2 separate regions of the Homo sapiens genome follow, and region 2 is linked to region 1. Evidence: fine-mapped QTL for protein levels in blood plasma. Region 1 holds a variant in brackets. A gene starts in the other region. All regions are shown on their reverse strands. Region 1 holds the start of DAB2 (DAB adaptor protein 2). Region 2 holds the start of NELL2 (neural EGFL like 2).

The links. A credible set is the group of variants that fine-mapping cannot tell apart. PIP is the chance, under the fine-mapping model, that this variant and not a neighbour inherited with it causes the effect. Protein levels are from antibody-based Olink assays in UK Biobank. Linkage for the fine-mapping came from a reference panel and not from the study's own genotypes, which makes the PIPs less certain.
Region 2: NELL2 starts here. The variant in region 1 is the best candidate, but not a certain one, in a credible set for the plasma level of the NELL2 protein (UK Biobank, PIP 0.67).

What each region holds. Positions count from the first base shown.
Region 1 is chr5:39,420,725-39,430,542 of GRCh38, reverse strand. DAB2 (DAB adaptor protein 2) reads left to right here and starts at 5,563. Exons shown (of 15, transcript NM_001343.4): 1 at 5,563-5,739. The variant A/C (reference allele first, on the strand shown) is at 5,553.
Region 2 is chr12:44,870,775-44,880,592 of GRCh38, reverse strand. It overlaps NELL2 (neural EGFL like 2), which reads left to right and starts at 4,278. Exons shown (of 20, transcript NM_001145108.2): 1 at 4,278-4,778; 2 at 5,240-5,368. The coding sequence starts at 4,724. RefSeq lists enhancers at 3,154-3,653, 3,654-4,155.

The DNA.
Region 1 (9,818 bases):
GGAATTTAACCTTGTTTTATGCTATGGGGTCCTTTGATCATCCAGGGAAATCTATAGTGCACCTCTCCAGAAAATGCATATACGAACAGGCACACAGACGCTTGTGTGAAGCGTGTGCATGTACATGTGCTTCACACTCATTAGGGAGTTAAATCATCCTGGAGTCCAGACACAGCTTCCCTCCATTCTCTAATGAAGACGTGACCTTGAGCATGAGCATTAAACGAGTACAGCAAATGGTATTCCTTCTTCATTCACAAGTGACCATTCCATTTTAAAACTGAGGCTATTCAATCAGTCCAGAAACCTAAGCACATCACATGCGCATGGTTGGAATGGAGCAGAAGTGTTTAGGGACCGAATCGAATGTCTGTGAATGGTTAGACCTGTTTTCTTTGTCTTTTTATTTTTATTTTTATTTTTATTTTTTTTTGAGACGGAGTCTTGCTCTGTCACCCCAGGCTGGAGTGCATTGGTGCGATTTCCACTCACTGCAACCTCCGCCTCCTGGGTTCAAGCAATTCTTCTGCCTCAGCCTCCTGAGTGGCTGGGACTATAGGTGTGCGCCACCACGCCTGGCTAATTTTTGTGTGTGTTTTTTTTAATAGAGACGCGGTTTCACCATTTCTCTCAGGAGAAAAGCAGCATCTCTGAAAGTGTGGTCCCCAAGACCACTGCATCAGAATGACCTGGAAGTGCTGATTAAAACACAGATTCCGGGCGGGCGGCGGTGGCTCACGCCTGTAATTCCAGCACTTTGGGAGGCCGAGGCGGGCAGATGACGAGGTCAGGAAATCAAGACCATCCTGGCTAACACGGTGAAACCCCGTATCTACTAAAAATACAAAAAATTAGCTGGGCGTGGTGGCGGGTGCCTGCAGTCCCAGCTACTCGGGAGGCTGAGGCAGGAGAATGGCGTGAACCCGGGAGGCAGAGCTTGAGTGAGCCGAGATCGCGTGACTGCACTCCAGCCTGGTGACAGAGCGAGACTCCGTCTCAAAAAAAAAAAACAAAAAACAAAAAACAAAAAACAGATTCCCTGGTACCCCCACCACAGACCTTTCCAGAGAAGTCTCTGAGGCTGAGCCCAGGAATTTACTCTAGTAGCCAACTTCCGGGATGACTGTCGTAAATACTACAATTTGAGAACTATTGCTCTGGAGGCTGAATTAAGCAATGAGCATACTGATGAATACTCACTTTTGAAAAGCCTAAAGGTAGACCTCCATGAAAACTATTCGTAGGATTTCCTTTCTTCCTTTCCTTATCTTAAAATGATATAATCTTTTTGAAAAAAAACCCACAAACCTGCGTGTATATCATTTCACTTCAATGCATAAATGTGACCTATACCTGCATAAAGACTATTTTCAGTTTTTTCCTTTTTGCATGGCTCCCACCCCTTTTCTCTGCCCTTGTCTCCACCAGGCCCCTAGTAATCTGTACTGCAACCTCCTTGATAATCCTTCATATATACCCACAAACATATATACCCAAATATATATAAATAGGTGTTGCTTTTTATATTACTAAAATAGAAACATCTTTTCCATGCTTTTCTGTACCTTGCTTTTCTCACTCAAAAAAACCTAAAGGAATATTCCCATGTCACAAAATTTGACTCTAATTTATTCCTTTGAATGGTTACATATGACTTCACAGTATGGATAAGTCATAACATACTCAGTCATTCTCCATTGACAGGCATATTTTGTCCTAGCTTCCTGCTGCTATAAATGATACAATTAACAACCTTGGGGGCAGGGAGTGGTGGCTCATGCCTGTAATCCCGGCAATTTGGGAGGCCGAGGCGGGTGGATCATGAGACCAGCCTGGCTAAGATGGTGAAACCCCGTCTCTACTAAAAATACAAATACAAAAATTAACTGGGCATGGTGGTGGGCACCTGTAATCCCAGCTACTCGGGAGGCTGAGGCAGAGAATTGCTTGAACCCGGGAGGCGGAGGTTGCACTGAGCCGAGATCTTGCCACTGCACTCTAGCCTGGGCCACAGAGCAAGACTCCATCTCAGAAAAATAAAAAAAAAAAAATCCTTGCATATTATACATGTGCTTTATTTCTAGTGGATAGATTCTTACTCCTAGGATAGAGAAGTGTATGTGTTTGCTACAATAACAATTAATATTAGTAATTCCTGCAGGGTTTTATGTATTTTCATTTTTGATAACTCCTGCTAGGTTTCTTTCCAAGTAAGACAGTATTTATTTGAATGGTAATTTTTATGGGTATTTACTTGCCTTTCACAATTTCTCATTATAAAAATTTATATTGATAAGTGAGGTGTAATTAGTTATATACATTTATATTATTGAATTTTAAATGTTCTTCATTTTACAAGTACCAATTTTTCCAAGTACCCTAGTAGTCTACCACCTGAGTTTCATTAAAATTGCACAAAACAGAAAAATACATATTAGTTCTGAGATGCTATAGGGGTATAAGCAAGAAAACAAAACACAAACAGGCTGCCTTCTATGAAACTATCTTCCAAATATTTTAGATCAGAAGATGGACAGGTAGATGGATAGACAGAGATATGAAAAAAAACCTCCAGTATTTGTTTTGACTTGCCAGCCACCAAATCTGGTAGGGTCAGTTTTTCTGTAATGTTAAATATGCAGGACTGGTCAAGGTCAAAGAACATTTTCTGGGAACAATAGCCATTCTCTTCATTGTTTTTTTAATGACATGGAGAAGGAAAAAAAAAAAAGGAGAGAGAGAGAGATGTGACCTTACTAGGTCCACTTCAACAAATCCTTGTTTGATTTTAACATCTCTAAGTGTCCAGCAAGGCATCAAAGGCACACAGGCAGTTTACCTTACAGCCAGTTCCAAAGTGCCATTTACAATTCAGGAGAAATGACAGGCTTCAAAAGGGGCAGTTTAAGGAAGACAAGAGCAGTAGAGAGGGGGATAGAAGAAGTGATGGAGAAGGAGGAGAGAAAGGATAAAGGATTAGGTCTGTGAGCTAACAGAGGAAAACAGCTTAATTATGGAAGAAAAGACACATGCATAGGATAGGTCGAACAGGCAGAGTTGCTGTGGAAGCACATTCCAGGAAAATCTTAAGAGATTACTTTAATAATAAACCATGCATTCTTCAGCAAGCCATCACGGGATTAACTACCCCTTTCCTAGGCTGGGAGCACAGTCATTTGTTTTATTTTATTTTTTCCTTCTCTCTCACAGGCAGGTTTTCTGCAACGGACAATTGCCATTCAAAGACTATTGTTTTTCAAACATTGAACTGACTTTTCCTCCCCTTAATTTTCTAAACATAAATTTCAGTGGTGATAAGAAAAGACCATTATTTAGGCAGGGTAAATATCTGGGTGGGCTTTGGCGTGATTCTCCAGAGGGAAAGATGTTCATTTTAGACTTGTTGAAAAGTGAACAACTTAGATGAGACAGAGACAATGTTTCACGAGGGATAAAAAGAGTTAAATTTCTTTTCTTTTTTTTTCTTAATGTGAGCAGGACATTGAATTACTGCCAGAAGCAATATCGGTGCCCTAGAGATATAAAAATACAGTTCAAACCAGAATTCTCCACTGTCGACTCTTCAGATTTCTGTGCAAAATAAGAGGTGTCTATTTTAAGTTGTAAGTGTGAGCCCACTGCTCTTAAATGAACTGTTTTCATCAAAGTCTTCTCTTGAAACTACAACTCATAGCAGATGAAATCATTTTCTTCCTCTGGCTTCTTAGACAAATCCCTTCCATTTGGTGGGGTAGAGCAAACATAAGTTAGTATTTCTTGGTAAGAGTCTTTCAAAAAAAAAAAAAATAGAATTGAGTGAGCACTTCTTAGTCTAGAAAATATTACATATTGAGGTTAAAAGAGACACCCATGTCTTTCTAATTATCAAAGTCTCTATTTGCCTGAAGTCAGCAGCCCTTTTTCCAGCTACCTAGCCAATAGAAATGAAACTGGACTTCTAGATTTTAGAAACAAAGCCTTGTGTTCTAAAATGTACTAGAATTACATTTCTCTGCATAAATGTTATAAATAGAATACTATCCTAGGACTAAAATTTGTATACTTCCTGTCATTCACACAAAGTCATTTTTTAAAATAGCAAATTACCTCTGAGGAATATTGAAAACTGCCAGCATGGCCCTCCCTGCCTCCACACCCCTAGGTGTGTCAGGGGATGAGAAATAGTAGAGGCTGGGGAAGTAGAATTCTGGGCCAGCTGTGCTGCTCTGCACCCCTCAGTCTCCCCGAACAACGGTTGTTTCAAGCCTGACCTACTTGAGAGCAGACATTGCCACTCACATTGAGCTACCCCAAATTACACAGTGGCTTTGCAGTCGAGGCTAGGCACGGACCACAAAATATATCCTTGATGTCCCACGAGCCCTATTTGAACCCTCAGTTTCCAGAGGTAAAATGCAAATCCACTGTGTTGCTTACTCGATAAAATCAATAACCCCCTCCCATCCGAGATACAATTTAGCATTTTCACATTTACTACGTGCTGCCTCTGACTTTAAACAATTAAATTTTTTTCTTAAAAAAAGGGAAAAGAGACACGTCTTTCACAAGAGTAATTTCAGAATTCTCCAAAAAGCAACAGAGCTTCTGTGGATGTTTTACAATAATTCTTGATTTTAAAATATGGAGAAAATGAATTCTCAGCTTGTTAACACTCATTAGGATTTGCTGCGGAGTACCTTCTACCGCTCAGCACTCTACGTTAACATTTTTAAATATTTTATTTCTTGCAGTTCATGTTTTTCCTAGAGTTATAGGAAGTGCTATGGAAATTCATGCAGATAAAGTCATGTTATGTGTCTACATATAGGTGTATATACACTGTAAGGGAAGCCTGTATAGAATCTCTGATTGTATCAGAATTATAACTTATTTGATAGGCTACATAGACGTGAACATGTTTTGCTCATATCGATTTCAGAGAGAATATTATTTTTATATCCATATATATGATTATATTTCATAGGTAAATACAGTATGTTTCACATATGCACACATAGATTTCCCACTAACTTAAGCGCATTTGCATCTGCAATGAGGGAGACACTAATTTCTTCTAAGGGGAGCAAATCCAATCGCGCGATCAACTTTAGAAACTGCAGATCTGCGCAGGAACCGTTGTCCCTTGTCAGAAAAGTCAGGAGTAAAGGCAGTCCTTTGTTCAAAGGGCCCCAACGGGTTGGTTAGGATGACTCCGTGTGCCACATCACTCGCAGTGGCAATCCAGGGAACGGATCTGTGAAACGAAGCTCGGTGGATCCCACCCCTTTCCTCCAGAGCTTCCCTTTCCTGTCCTTATTTGCACCCGCCCCCCGCCCGCGTCGGTCTGGGGCTTTTGACTTCTCCCCGAACACATTTCCCCTCCCGTCGCTGGGTCCCTGCGATCGCCCCCAGCTGGTGGGGCTCGCGGAGCTCAGGGGAGCGGGGTCCTCTGCGCCGCTGCAGCGCGAGTTAATAAACAGTTAAGTTTGGAAGACTCTGCAGACACGTTGAGGGGGAGTTACCAAGCCCAGGCAGCAAAAACATCCTGGCAC[A/C]TTCCTGGGGAGTCCTCAGCTGCCAGCATCTGATTAGAACCATATCTCTCGCCGGGAGTGGCCGCGCGGCTCCGAAGCTCCCGGCCGGCGGCTATTTAAGCGAGGCCCGCCGCATCCGCTGCGCTGTAGCCTGGAGGCTCCGGGCGCGGGGAAGTCATGCTCGCTTCACGGAGGCAATAGCTAGCCGGTGAGTAGCTTCGAAACCCTTCTTCCCTCTGGCTCCATTTTTTTTTTAAAGATCTCCTTCTCTCCTTTGCTCCCCCTCTCTCACCCCCCCGCCCCCCGCTACCCTTCTTTGAGTACAGACCTTGGGCTGTGGGGAATCTTAGAAATGAGACCCTGTGCTTGGGGAAACCAGCAGTTTTGTGGCCTGACATCTGAGGAATGCTTCCGCGGAATGTATTTACCTTTCGAATCCGACTCCAGATGCCCAGCTTGTGACATTTAACAAACGCCTCCTTTTGTGTCGTGTGTGTGTGTGTGTGTGTGTGTGTGTGTGTGTGTGTGTGTGTGTGTGTGTAAAAGGTCTGCGGGCAGCCCTCCTAGGACACTGAGGTGGCTGCTGACCGCCTAATTAACTCCTCGAAGGGTGTTTATTTTTGCTGTGTGACAAAGGCTGGGGACCTGGCTTGTGCCCATAAGGAGCTTTTTCCTGGTGACTGACAACATATGGCATTAAAATGTGAACTTTTGTCTTACACCGGCATTCCTAAGGAAGTATCTACCCAAGGGACTTAAGAAACTTGTTTTATATCCCCCGGCGCAGGGAGCATGGTTTATATGGTGCTTGCCTGCCTGTTGTAAGCTGGTTAAAAAGATTAAGTAAGAATTCTAAAAAAGGGGGGAAAAATGAATGGGTTAAAACCGTGGAGCCTCAGTCAACATAGCGGTTTTCATAGCATAGAGCTGACTCTGTTATTTGTTTCTGCTGTCTTTCCCTCTTGACTTAATTCTGAGCCTGGAATTCTGGTCCGCAGACAGTTTCAGCAGGGAGCTGAGTCCAAAGGGAAATTCAACTGGATTAAAAACACTTAAGGAATCTGGGTGTTATCTCCACCCCAACCACCCCCCACCTTTTCCCCTTTCTTTTTAGTTTTTGTTTGGAAGGAAGAGAGCCGCTCTGTAAACCGAGAAGAGCAGAAACAAGCTTCCAGACACATGGAAAGACTTAAAAATTATGGAGGGGCGACTTCACGAATAGTAAATGTTGCTATTGCTCTATAAAGTGACTTCATGAAAAAATTTCTGGCCTTAGTCAGGCAAAGCAGGGGCATGGGGGAGAAGGAGGTAAGATATAACTAATGCAAACAGAAGTAATGGGAGTGGAAAGCAGGCATCTACAAAAAATGCCTTTGAGATGTCTGATAAGCCTCTTGGAATGGCTTTGATGAGATGTATACTTGATTGTCCTTACAGTCTTGAGGTTGGCTTCTCACACAAAAGCACCTACTGGCTGTTGGGGAGGAGGGAGCTTGCAGCTACCAAATGGCTTGTCACCATGCTTCTTACCCCAGCAGCCAGACTTTGGGAGGCTACTTTTCTCTGAGCCAGGTGCCCCGCCCACTCCAGGTTCTGTGTCTCCCCTCTTGGAAGGGAGATGGCCCTCAGTGACACTGTAAGAAAGTTTATTGCCTTGAGAATTCGGGAGTATTTGAGTACAATGGGAAAGTCTTCTAGAGAAAGCATGAAGAAGACCTAGTGGTCTTTGCCAATGTGGATTTCTGGGACAGACCACTTCTTCCAAATCCTTAGTCAGTTTCCTCCTAAGGCCAACTAAATTCTTTTTCCTGTTGTTGGTGAATAACTTCCCCCTTCTTTTCCCACTCCCAGCTGGAAGGATCCCTTCTCATCCAAATGACTGACCTAGAAACCAGTCATTTTTCAGCTATGCCCTCCTATGCTTTAATGTATAACCAGAATAAGTAGATGGTAGAGGAATGTCTTCCAACTTTGAGCCCATACACGTATGTATTTGCCATTCTGGGGATCTTTGATCTTGATGGTTGATCTTTACCTGAGGATGTAAGTGAGGGAAGAAAGCACTTGTTACAAACCTTGTCTAATTTGTGAAGGGCAAACTCCAGAGTTTGTGTTTCTGCTAAAGACTTTTATAGTTTCAGATTAAACTGGAAGTCCAAATTCCTGTGCATTAGGCCTGTTTGTTGTCTTTCTCCAAAGGTTGAATGGATTTCACTGGCCTTGTTTGGGTTGAAGGGTACGGCTTTTAAGGCACTTGTTGGCATGAAGGTAGTACAGGGACCTCTGGCAGCTGCTGACCAGCTGTTTGGGGATGATATTTACTGGCCTGCTCAACCAGGCCTCGATTATCTGAAGGTTAAGGGAGCAGGAAGATATCTTCCTTGCTGAGTGCTCCTGGCCAAGCAGGAGGCTTTGCTGTGACATAGGCTCTTATGCTGCTTCATTTCTAACTCTACCCTCATATGTCCATAAACCTAAGTTTGCTACCACTGATATTTCATCTGGATAATTTTGAAGGCTCTGCGTGTTTCTCTTCCTCATTCTTTTGACCTGAGGATTTAATTATTGCTCTTCTTAAAGACAAAGCCAAGATGCTGAAATGCTTGGGAAAGCTGCTGAGAGTGAGCCCTCCTGGGGTTTGAAGTTGTCCTAATGCTCATCAGAACATACCTCCCCAGCTGGAAAGATTCGAAAGCTTACTGGCCAGGAAGGTTTAGGTAACTAACCAAACACATAAGGTTTTTTACCCTTTAGACAGAACCAGAATGGGAACCAGATTGGCAATATGAAACACCTGAGTAACAGGATGTGGTATTTTAAAATTCTCCCTGGCACTGCTATGTAATTCCAAAGTTGAAGCTGTGCCGCTGAATTGCACAAAGGTTGGCCAAAATCATATTTAGGTGAAACAGATTTTTGTTTTGTTTTGTTTTGTTTTGTTTGAGACAGAGTCTCCCTCTGTTGCCCATGCTGGAGTACACTGGCATGAACTTGACCCACTGCAGCCTCTGCCTCCTGGGTTCAAGAGATTCTGTGACCTCAGTCTCCTGATTAGTTGGGATTAGAGGTACCCGCCACCATACCTGGATAATATTTTTTTTTTTTTTTTGTAGTAGTAGTAGAGACGGGGTTTCACCATGTTGGCCAGGCTGGTCTCGAACTCCTGACCTCAAGTGATCCACCCACCTCGGCCTCCCAAAGTGCTGGAATTACAGGCATGAGCCCACCACACCCGGCCAGATGAATCAGATTTAACACCAGATATGTGTCTTTAAAGGAGACCCAACTCATAATATCAGCATATCCTGACTGGATTAACTGGTGGAAATCAGAAGGAAAGCAGACTCCTCAGTCTTTACTTAAAGACAGAAAACAAGCAAATTCCTGGTTAGGGGAACAAATGATGACTGGTACGGACACAGAGGGCTAACATTCAACACTGGCTGCCTCCAACAGGGCACAATTGGATAGTAGTTGAGAACTACCTTCTGAAGTACCATTTCCTGGGTTCAAATCTTAGCTACAGGGTTGCAGGTTACATGGCCTTGGGCACATTCCATAACCTCTCTGTACTTCAGCTTGCTTATCTGGGGAGAATAATAGTACCTACCCCAGGATTGCTGGGAAGACAGCTAATCTAATATACTTGGAATACTTTTTCCCATCTGATTTTGAAGGTTTTGTTTGTTTGTTATTACTCCCCCCTGAACAACTGAATTAAGTGTCTTTGTGAAAACTGAAAGCAAATGGAAAATTTCTTCATGAAAATTGAATACCCTTCACCTACTTGAAAAAGGTTAATTATTCAAGCACTTGATTTTAATAAAGCCAGTGCGTTTGCTTGTGCTCATGCTAGAACAGACAGGGAGTTACTCTCTGTTTTCGTCCTGGAAGCCTGCACTTTGGTTTGGTCAGGCTGACCTCGCTGGTCTCAATTAAGTCCTCCCCACACCCTCTCAGACTCCTGACAGAGAAGGAGCAATCCTTCCCCCTGAAGTCAGCATTGTCACAGAAGGAAGTGGGAAGGGAGGGACCACCCGGATTAAACTGAATGACTAGGCTAGAAATAAAAATTCTTCCGAGTGTGTGCAGGCCCCATACTATCCTTGCCCACATAGCTGGGCAGGTTGCCATGGTTACTCCCCTTCCCGCATCCTTCTACCCTGGAAGGAAGCCTGCCTCTCTAGGGGAAGTAGAATCTGAACAAATTGCTTCCTGGTCTAAAAATGGAAGTTACTAAGTGAAGTAGAATCTCCTCTCTACTTATATCACCCCCTCCAAACTTAT
Region 2 (9,818 bases), not on the chromosome of region 1:
AATACTATATACTTCTATTCTTTCTAGTCTGTTATTCCACATCTCTAACTAGTTGTGTGTTGGTTATTTTAACTGTAACATTCATGTTTTGTTTATGTTTTCCATTCTTTTTATCGGTCTTGGCACATTCTCAGTAATATTCTCACATCTGACTTTTTGTTTTCAATGTTTTTGGTCACTAATTTTTAGCACTGTTTTATTGCTGCTTATTAGAGCTAATGGTTTTTAATATTGTTTTTAAACATACTTTTATTGCTAGAAGTTCTATTTGGTTTCTTTTGAGATATGTCTACTCTTTTCTCATACAATTCTGTCATTTCATTTCTTTTATATCCCTTTAAAAATATCTCCAATCACTTAAACATTCTTATTTTATGTTTTCTGTCACTTTATTTTTTGATATCCTGAGGTCATGAGATACTAATTCTCTGTTTTTCTCTCTCTCTCTCTCTGTGTGTGTGTGTGTGTGTGTGTGTGTATGTTTCTTGACTATTTTTCATAGTCTTTTATCTCAGTGTAATAGTAATAACAATGACAATTATTATTATTATTATTGCACAGCAGGAATTTTCTTCTTGTGTACCAGAAGTCATAGAAAGTCACTTAAAAGAAGTCTTATATTTGCTTCTTCAGAAGACCCTGGGAGTTTAATGCTACTTTTTGATTTTAGAATTTCCATATCAGTGAGGAGTGTGATCTCGGACCTTGTACCTGCAAGTGGCAAAGCTTGAGATTTGACATTTAGTATAGGTGCATTGGTTTTCCACAAGGGCACGTGCAGCTGGCAAGCTTCGGCCAACATGCAAAGTTTTAAAGTTTCAAAAGTTTCTTTTTGTAGGAGATATAATTCTTCAAAGCTTACTACTCTTATCAGAAGAATCAGTAATATCATCATCTTTTCTGGCTTCCAAAATTTGTTGTTTTCAGTTCTGGTGTGGATGTTAAAATCCCACTCTATTTTCTTAGGGTCCCGATAGAGTCTGAATCCCTGTGTTCCACCCTCTCCAAATTCTTGCACCACCTATTGCTTTCTCTGTCCATCTTCTGCTATGTCTTTTTTCTAGCACCTGGGGATTTTCTTTTCTTAATTTAAAGCTCATCTGTGAATTTAAAAATTGGGCATTTTACTTAGCTTTGATATGTGTATATGGTAGGAAGGGATCTAAGGGTCGTTAGAGTCAACCATGTTTACTGAACTTTTCCTCATGTAGTCAGTACTTATATTAGTTTTCCGTGGATGCTGTAACCAACTACCACAAATTTAGTGGATTAAAACAACACAAATTTATTATCTTACGGATGGTTGTTCAGAAGTCTAAAACAGTCTTGACTTTTTTGGGCAAGAGTCAAGTTATCAGCAGGGTTGTATTCTTTTCTGGAGGCTCTAAGGGATAATCTTTTTCCTTGCCATTTCCAATTTCTAGATGCCTCCCATATTCCTTGTCTCATAGCCCTTCTATATTTTCCCATCTTCATAGTCAGCAACAGGAAGTCGAGTTCTTCTCATATTGCATTAATCTGACCTCCTCTTATGCCTCCTTCTTCCACATTTAAGGGCCCTCGTGATTATATTGGGCATACCCAGATAATCTGAAATAATCTTCCTATTTTAAGGTTACCTGATTAACAATCTTAATTCCATCTGCAACCTTAAATCCCCTTTGCCATGTGAGGTAACATACACAGGTTCCACTGATTAGGAACTGGAAAAGACTGTTTCTTAAGGGGAAGGGGATTGGAATATTATTATGCCTACAACAATGATTGCAAGCAAAATTTTAACATTGTCTAAAAGGAGTTTGAGTGTATGTAGATATAATACATAAGACAACTACAACCTAAAGAGTTGAGGATAAAGGGATTTGATGTGGTAGTAAAGCTTCTGTATTCGAACTGAAGTGGTAATGTATGGACTCTAGGTAGAAGGTGAAAAGTTAAGTATGTATATTGTATTCCCTAGAATACCAATTTTAAAAGCTTCACAAAGAGATATAGTCAAAAGAACACATAGATAAAATGGAATACTGAAAATACTGGCATTCAGTGGATAGAGACCAAGAATTCAACTAACATCCTACAAGGCACAGGACAGCCCCAATAAAGAATTATCCAGCCCCAAAATGTTAGTAGTTATAATGTTGAAAACTCCTGCCCAGGTTGAGAAACTCTGCCCTAGCTAATACAATGGCTCACCTTTACTATGGGTTTCCAAACCTTATACCTTAGTTTTAGAGAAACAACTCTTCACACCTCCCCATACTCATATTTTAATGATTTCCATACTATTTAATTAGGTCAAATAATTACAGTAGCAGGTTCAACTAGAATTATTTTGGGTACCAAATACCACTGTTCTGGAGGGAGCCTCAGTGTGTATGGTACTGGAGATAAGCCCATTAACCACCAGCTTTCAGCATATGGATGAGAGTCAGAGAAACTCGAGAGTATCCCTACTTTCATGAGTTGGTTGAACACAGGTTGGTTAGGAGGACTTTTATGTGGAAATATATATGTGCATATGTATATTTATGTTTTATTCTTTTCTCTAATGATAGCATTTTAAATGCTACGTTATTTAAAATTTATTTCGTGTAGCTTCTGTAGATACTTATTACAATTGAATATTTTAGATGCACAGCTGTAGAAAGGTCTTTAATTCTCTGATGATTAATTTCTTTTCATTGATTAATTAAATTGTATTATTTATTTGGCATAGTTTTTCAAATTTGGGAAATTGCATATGACAATCCTTTATCACTTGTAAGTACTGAAATATTTCTCAAACTTTACAAAGTTACAAATAGAATTAAATGGGAAATTCGATAAGAGAGAATTAAAAATTAATTTAAAAGAGCTCCCGAATTCTGAATCTTTTGTCTTAAAAATTCTAAGGGCAGATCTAAAAATACCTCTTTCCCTATAGTATAATATAGTATATGTATTCCACTATATGATAATATCTATAACTATATATCTATAGATAAAATGTATATTATACTCCTGCCTTGCAGGGGGCTCAGACTACCCAGTAGGCATTTTGGTAACTGTAGCTGTTAGTATCCAGTTGGAGAATTCAGTACCCACATGTTTGCATGGAAGGTTAAGAAACCCAATTGATCTTTGTACAGATTAATACCATAATGGTTTTTTAAACTCTTAACTTTTCCAAAATGAAAGTGGAATGCCATTCCTCAAAATTTACCTAAAAATTTTAGGGCTATGTTCAAAAAATATTATGTACCATTGATCTTGAACATACATGTGCCTGCTGAAAAATGGATCTCAAAGGACACCACTTTTATGGTCCCGGACATATGTGGTGAAGGGCAGGTAGAGCCTGCATGAGTGTGGTCAACAGTGGGATGGCTCTTCTCTCTCGCCTGGGCTCCATCTCCTCCCTCTGCTTATTTACGTATTTATTTATTTCTCTCTCTCTCTCTCTCTCTAACCATCTCCTCTATGTAGGTAGATATTTCGGCGTGAACAGACGCCCTGGCTCAGTTCCCCTTGCCTTCTGCTGTATGCTGGTCCCAGAGAGCCCGAGTCCGGGTCTCCACGCTTTATTTGGCAGGGGGCGCGCGGGTTCCGGAGCTGTCCAGCACCTCCTGGCCAAGTTCTCTGCGCTCTCCGCGCCCGGGAAGCTCTCCGCGCCGGGGAAGCTCTCCAGCGCCCCGCCCCCGGCAGGGAACCTCTCCACCAGGACACCCGGGGCTTCCCAGGCTCGCCATCCGTCCCCACCAGTCTCTACCTACTTTGCCCAGCTCCACCTCGGCAGTGCAGCGTGTTTTGGTGGCCTTCCTCCGCACGCCCTGGAGGGGGAGTGCCCTGCACCCCGGGGCTGCTCCGGAGCCCAGTGCACGAGTGCACATGGGCTTCCCTCCTTTGCTTAAAGGGCAGGCGAGCGCTACTCGCTCCAGCCTTGCCTCCTGCAGCTGGGTGGTCTTTTTTCTCTCCTGTCTTTCAAGACACGCGCCCGAAATCGAGGGGTGAGAGCAAAGACCGCCCATCAACTTAGCACCTTGGATTTAGAGCTTTCAATCCCGAAAGGAGGTTGGCATTGCCCGGGTCATCGAGAGAGGGAGGGAGAAGAGCTGAGGCTGCAACGGCTCCTGGGCTCCCTAGACCGGGTTTGGCATCCAGGAGACCGTGCGGGAGACCGACGCTGAGCGCCGGCCTCGCCCTCGGCGGCCCCTCCCTCCTCCTTACCCCGCCTCCCCCGGCCCGCCCCTCCCTCCCCGGAGGAGCAGTCTCTCCGCGCGTCTCCCGGAGCTTTCTCCATTGTCTCTGCCTTTACAACAGGTTCGGGCGGCGGGGAAGACGGGGGGGTGCGGGGCCGCCCCAGCCCGGGCTTTCTTGGGGCCGCCCCCCTTCTACCGGGTGTGCGAGTCTTTGGCTGCTTTTATTCGGCTCGGGAGCTAATTCCCCGACGGAGCCGCGCCGGGGCGAGTCCGACCCCTCCCTCCGGGCCCCCTCCGGGCCGCGCTGCCGCCTCGGCCCTGCGTGTGGGAATGATGTGCGCATTGGAGGGTCTAAGTTCTTCACGCGCCTGGGGAGGCCTCCCTTTTCTTTCTTAGGCAACCAAAGCGTATTAATCCTACTGATCAGTAAATCCGAGGCAGCAGCAGGAGAGACAAACGTTATTTTCCCGCTTGATTCCAAGAACCTCTTCGATTTTTATTTTTATTTTTAAAGAGGGAGACGATGGACTGAGCTGATCCGCACCATGGAGTCTCGGGTCTTACTGAGAACATTCTGTTTGATCTTCGGTCTCGGAGCAGGTGAGTGGCCGCAGAGCTGGGGCTGGGGAAAGGGATGGCTCCCGCCTCGGGGCAGCATGGGCTGGCTGGGGAAGCCTCGCTTTTCCCGGACCCAAAGTAGGTCTGGAGTGGGAAGCTTGGAGTAAGGGGGCGGGTTTGGATATGGATTTTTTTTTTTTCTGTGCTTGCCTTGGAGACCGCGAGGCGGATCACGCCCCTAGTCCAGGGTCGGAGGGCTGAGGGGGAACTTTGCAGAGAGAAGGGTTTAAAGGAGGTCATGGAAACGGGACTGGGTGCTCCGCTATTTAAAGCTTGGCTGCTGATCTCAGGTAAGGCTCTCGGCGGAGGAGGAGGCAGTCGCCTCTCATCTTCAGTTCCCAATATTGTCGCGAAAACGCGGTTCTTTGCTGCCCTGGAGGAAGAGACTTGCATTTTGATGGAGCTTTTCCTTTTTCTCTCTCCCACCTCATACCCCTCACCAGTTTGGGGGCTTGGTGTGGACCCTTCCCTACAGATTGACGTCTTAACAGAGTTAGAACTTGGGGAGTCCACGACCGGAGTGCGTCAGGTCCCGGGGCTGCATAATGGGACGAAAGCCTTTCTCTTTCAAGGTATGCCCGGCGTGCTGCATCCCCACTGTGATTTCAGTTCCGATAACCCCGGCAGGAGTTGCTCTTGCCGCTTGTCCTAACTTTGTATTGCCTCATGGATGACAGTACTTTAGCTGAGGTGTAGAAGGGCCAGTGTGAGACACATATCCCTATCTCTTTTAAGTGGTTTTTTCTCCCCTGCCTCACCCTTCTCCTTCGTACTTTGTACTCTTGCCAGTTCTAATGGATAGTCCCTTAATTACTGAGCAGAAACTCCTATGGCAGATGGTTGATTTTAGAATCTGGGGAACAATGAATTATAACACAAACGCCTCGTTTGGGTGAAATTGATTTAGGTAGGAAAAAGGATAGCTTAATCTTAGTTAAGACACTGATCTCTGAAAGTTTCAGGTACGATGGTGCCCTGCTTGGAGGAATTGTTTTATGGGGGTAGCTTTCTGGAAAAATTAATGCCTCTGAATATTTTTACTTACTGCATATCACAGTCGCAGTATATTTGAGGCAAAATTTATCTTTGAAAGACCCTCATTCTTCCTTCATCCACCAATAACAAGAGAAAGGGAATAATGGTCTCAAAAGTATTTTGGAAAGATTTCAAGTAAATGTTAATCTAGAAGTGTATCTCATATTATCATTAATTGTGTACTTACGATTTTACAACTTTTTTTTGAAGTCAATGGATATTGGCTGGGCACAAATGTCTACATCTCAAATTATATTTAAATGTGTTGTGCAGTCAGAAGCAAATTCCAATGCAGCAAACCTTCAACTTTGATTAGAGCTTTTGAGGATTGCTTGTTTGTGGAAAGTTGCCGTAATAAGAGCTTCTAAAAGGTAGCTAAACGTGTACAGACAGACTAGATTCATGTATGGTGAAGAATACATGAAGGCAAAAGAGAATGGAGTTTGGTTTAACATATCTAATGGACTAAAGCTTCTTGCCCTACCTCACCCAGATTTTTGTTGTTGTTGTTGTTATTTTGGTGCCATGGCTTTGAAAGTGCAATTCATAATTACTAAAGAGTTGGATATGCAAAAGGAAACCACTTCGGAAAATATGCTACCAAGAAATAGAAATAAAATAAAACTTGAGTGTTTCTGTAGTGGTGTTGTTGCCTGATATAGCCAGTATGTGTCACCATGGACACTAAAACCAAAGCTTAGAGTTGGGAAAGGAGGAAATTCACATGTGTTACATTTACTTAAAACAAGTTTGCTCTTATAAAAAATTAAAATGCAATTTTCTGGCTTAAAAATTATTGTTTAAATTTTATGTTTAAGTTAATTTTTTATTGTAACAAATATTTATGGTAATGTTTTATTCACTTAAGGGTCTTTTATAAGAGGGTGGGGCTTGGATATTGAATCCTTTAAAAACAATGACCAAATATAATAAAGAAGATAAGGCTACATTGTCAGCAGAATTTCACACAGTTGAATAGAAGTGTCAGTAGGGTTAACCTTCTGTTTTTTTTTTTTTGTTGTTGTTGTTTTGTATTGTGTTGTTTTTATCTCTGATTTTTAATCCCTATGAACTGGAAACAAAGTTATTTCAGGACTGCCAATTCGAGTAACTGGAAAGCTTTATGGAATCTAAAGCTCCTAATAAACAAATGGTATTGTAGTGCTCTTAAAATTTACAAAGCTCCTTTAAATTTTATTAGTATTCTACCTAGTTTCCTCTGAAGAGTGTCTGATCTGTCACAAATAGAAACCTTCAGGACTGTGCATTTTATATTCTGATGCTAGAAAATTAAACCATTTTTAGGAAATAGTCTCAGGAATCGATAACTTTTCCTGGTTAATTAAAAATGTTTAGTTATTCATTTTTATTTAAATTGTCAAATTCTTCAAGGTAGGTGTTCAAAATACATAAGGCATATAAAATGTTTTGTTTGAATTGTCCATAGTAACTAGATATCCATGTACATTGATGAATTGGTTGTTTTTCCTTCCTTGTTGATGCCGAGCTCAATATTTAGACAGAGTAAATGCCTAACAAATATGGTTTATGAGATTTGAAGGTGTAAAATTTCATTTTCTGCCAAATTATGGACTTTATTTAATATAACCAATCAATCAGCAAGTATTTCCTGCATGCCATGTTCTCAGTAGGCATATATTACTGATGTATTGATTATGCTCTTGTGATTTCTTTTATTCTAAGATTCGGATTATGAAATTGACAAAAGGTGGCCCTTTGGCCATGCATGGAATTTCGCATTACCTTGGCAAGGTCTTTGCTAATAGCATTTGGAAACTTGTTAAGAAGTCAGTTCCGAGTCTTGCTGCTTCATTGAGATTTCCTTTGGCTTTAGAGAGAAAAAAATATACAGACTGAAGATTTTATAGATTCTATTTACAGTGAGTTGAGGGTGCTGCAGATATTTTGTACGGTATATACATATACACTATACATAGTCATAGCAGGAATAGTAACAAATTACAAAATCCGTGAGATGCTCTCAGGTTTCATATGAACCTATCATATAAGTTTCTTTGTGCTATCAGATATGTTCTAAATAGATGGAAGAGATTTTTGGACCATCAAATTTTTCCTGCAGTAATGTAACCATCTTCTTCTGTCTTTTAGCTTTAAAATAAAGAAATCTCAACATATACTTTCCCAGTGATTTTTGCTCATTTAATATTGCTTTTCCTTGTGCCAGTTTTTCTCCTTAGTGGATTTTGAGATGCATGCAATTCAATACCTTTTGAAACTCGTAAATTTATTATTATCTATACCTAATAAAAACAAATGGAAATATATTTTAAAGTCATATGTTTTAAAAATAATAATAGCAACTATAGTATCACTAAAATGGTTTTGTTGTTGTTGAAATTTGATTTATAGTTGTTTTGGAAATTCAAGTAATAAGATGCTAAATTAGATTACACCTTAATAAATATGGCTTTTGATCTTTGCCAATTACCATAATTTTCAAAAAAGGAATCCAGGCAATTTTCTAGTCATTTCTAGCTATAATCTGACTTGCAGCCACAAAAATACACTTATTATGCTTTTAAAAATTAGAGGAGTGAATGTAGACAATAAAAAGACCTATGAAAGGTTATAAAGGGTTCTACTTTCTAAAATCTAGGAAGTATTCCCCAAGATAATGATCATAATAATGTTTTTTTCCTCTCTGTACATGAGGGATCAGGAATGAGAGTATACAGAAGCACCATTCTAGGACTTTCTAGCAATGTTAGCATGATTTTTAGATCTTTGATTTTAACAATTAATCTGGCCAGGTTCCCAAAGTAGATAATTTCCTCTGTTGGTTTAATACAATTTCTTCTGAAGTGTTAACAGATTTTATAATCTCATTAATCCATAGAAGAGAAGTGGATAAAATCAAAGCATGTTTTTTTTACAAGTTGTTAAGTTGAAAATAAGCTTAGTAGTTATTTGTAAAAAACTTTAAGGTTTTAAAGGGAAAAAAAGGTCGTACGTCTCCTCTTATGCCAGTGTTACGCAGAGTGAAATAGGCATTTGGTAATAGACCATGGACTTTAGTAGGCAAAGGTAACTGCATTGAGGAAATCGAGGTGGCACTAATTTGTCTTCAGTATGATGGTTGGTGAGCATCTGTGGACTTTGAAGTGATGGCTGTTGGTGCCCAAATAGTGTGGAATAACACAGTGTTTAAGAGATGCACTTAGAAACAAGATAGACTGAGGTGGAATTTCATTAGTTGTTTTACTGTGGTGAAGTTACTTAATTTCTCTAAGCTCCAGTACCCTCAATTATAAAATGATCATTGTTATGACAATTAAGCGAGTTACTTTCATTCTTTCAAATAAGTTATTTTTGGGAAACTAGCATACTGCTAGGTGTTAGGCACATAACAAATGAAGACGTTAGAACTTAACTTTGATTTCATAGTGTCTTAAAAATAGCCGTTGAACAATTACATAGTTACAGACCTAATCACCATTAAGATAAATTATATGAAGAAAAACTGAAGATATAATGGGAATCTATATTTTAGTTAGGGGAGTCTCAGGCTCAGGGAAACCATCTTTGAAGAATAGTCATTTAAGCTGATAGTTGAAGGATATGTAAGAGTAGTCCAAAGAAGAGAAGCTATGGGGATAGGCAAAGGGACTAGTGTGTGAGCAAGGTTCTGAGCATGGGATGAATGTGCATTTGAGAACGTGGAGGAAGTCTAGAGAAGTAGAAACATAGGGCATGTGATATGAAATAAAGTATATGAGGAAAGCAGGAACCAGGTTACATGGTAGGCTATACTAATAGAGCAGAATTGAAAATTTATCATTATGGAAATATATATTATGGTGGGCAGAATAATGGTCCTGCATAGATGTTCATGTCTTAATTCTTGGAACCAAACAATAGGTTACGTTATACAGCAAGGGGAAGTTAAGTTTGCTCATCAGCTGACTTTAAGATTAGGAGGCTATCATAGGTTATCTGGGTGAGCCC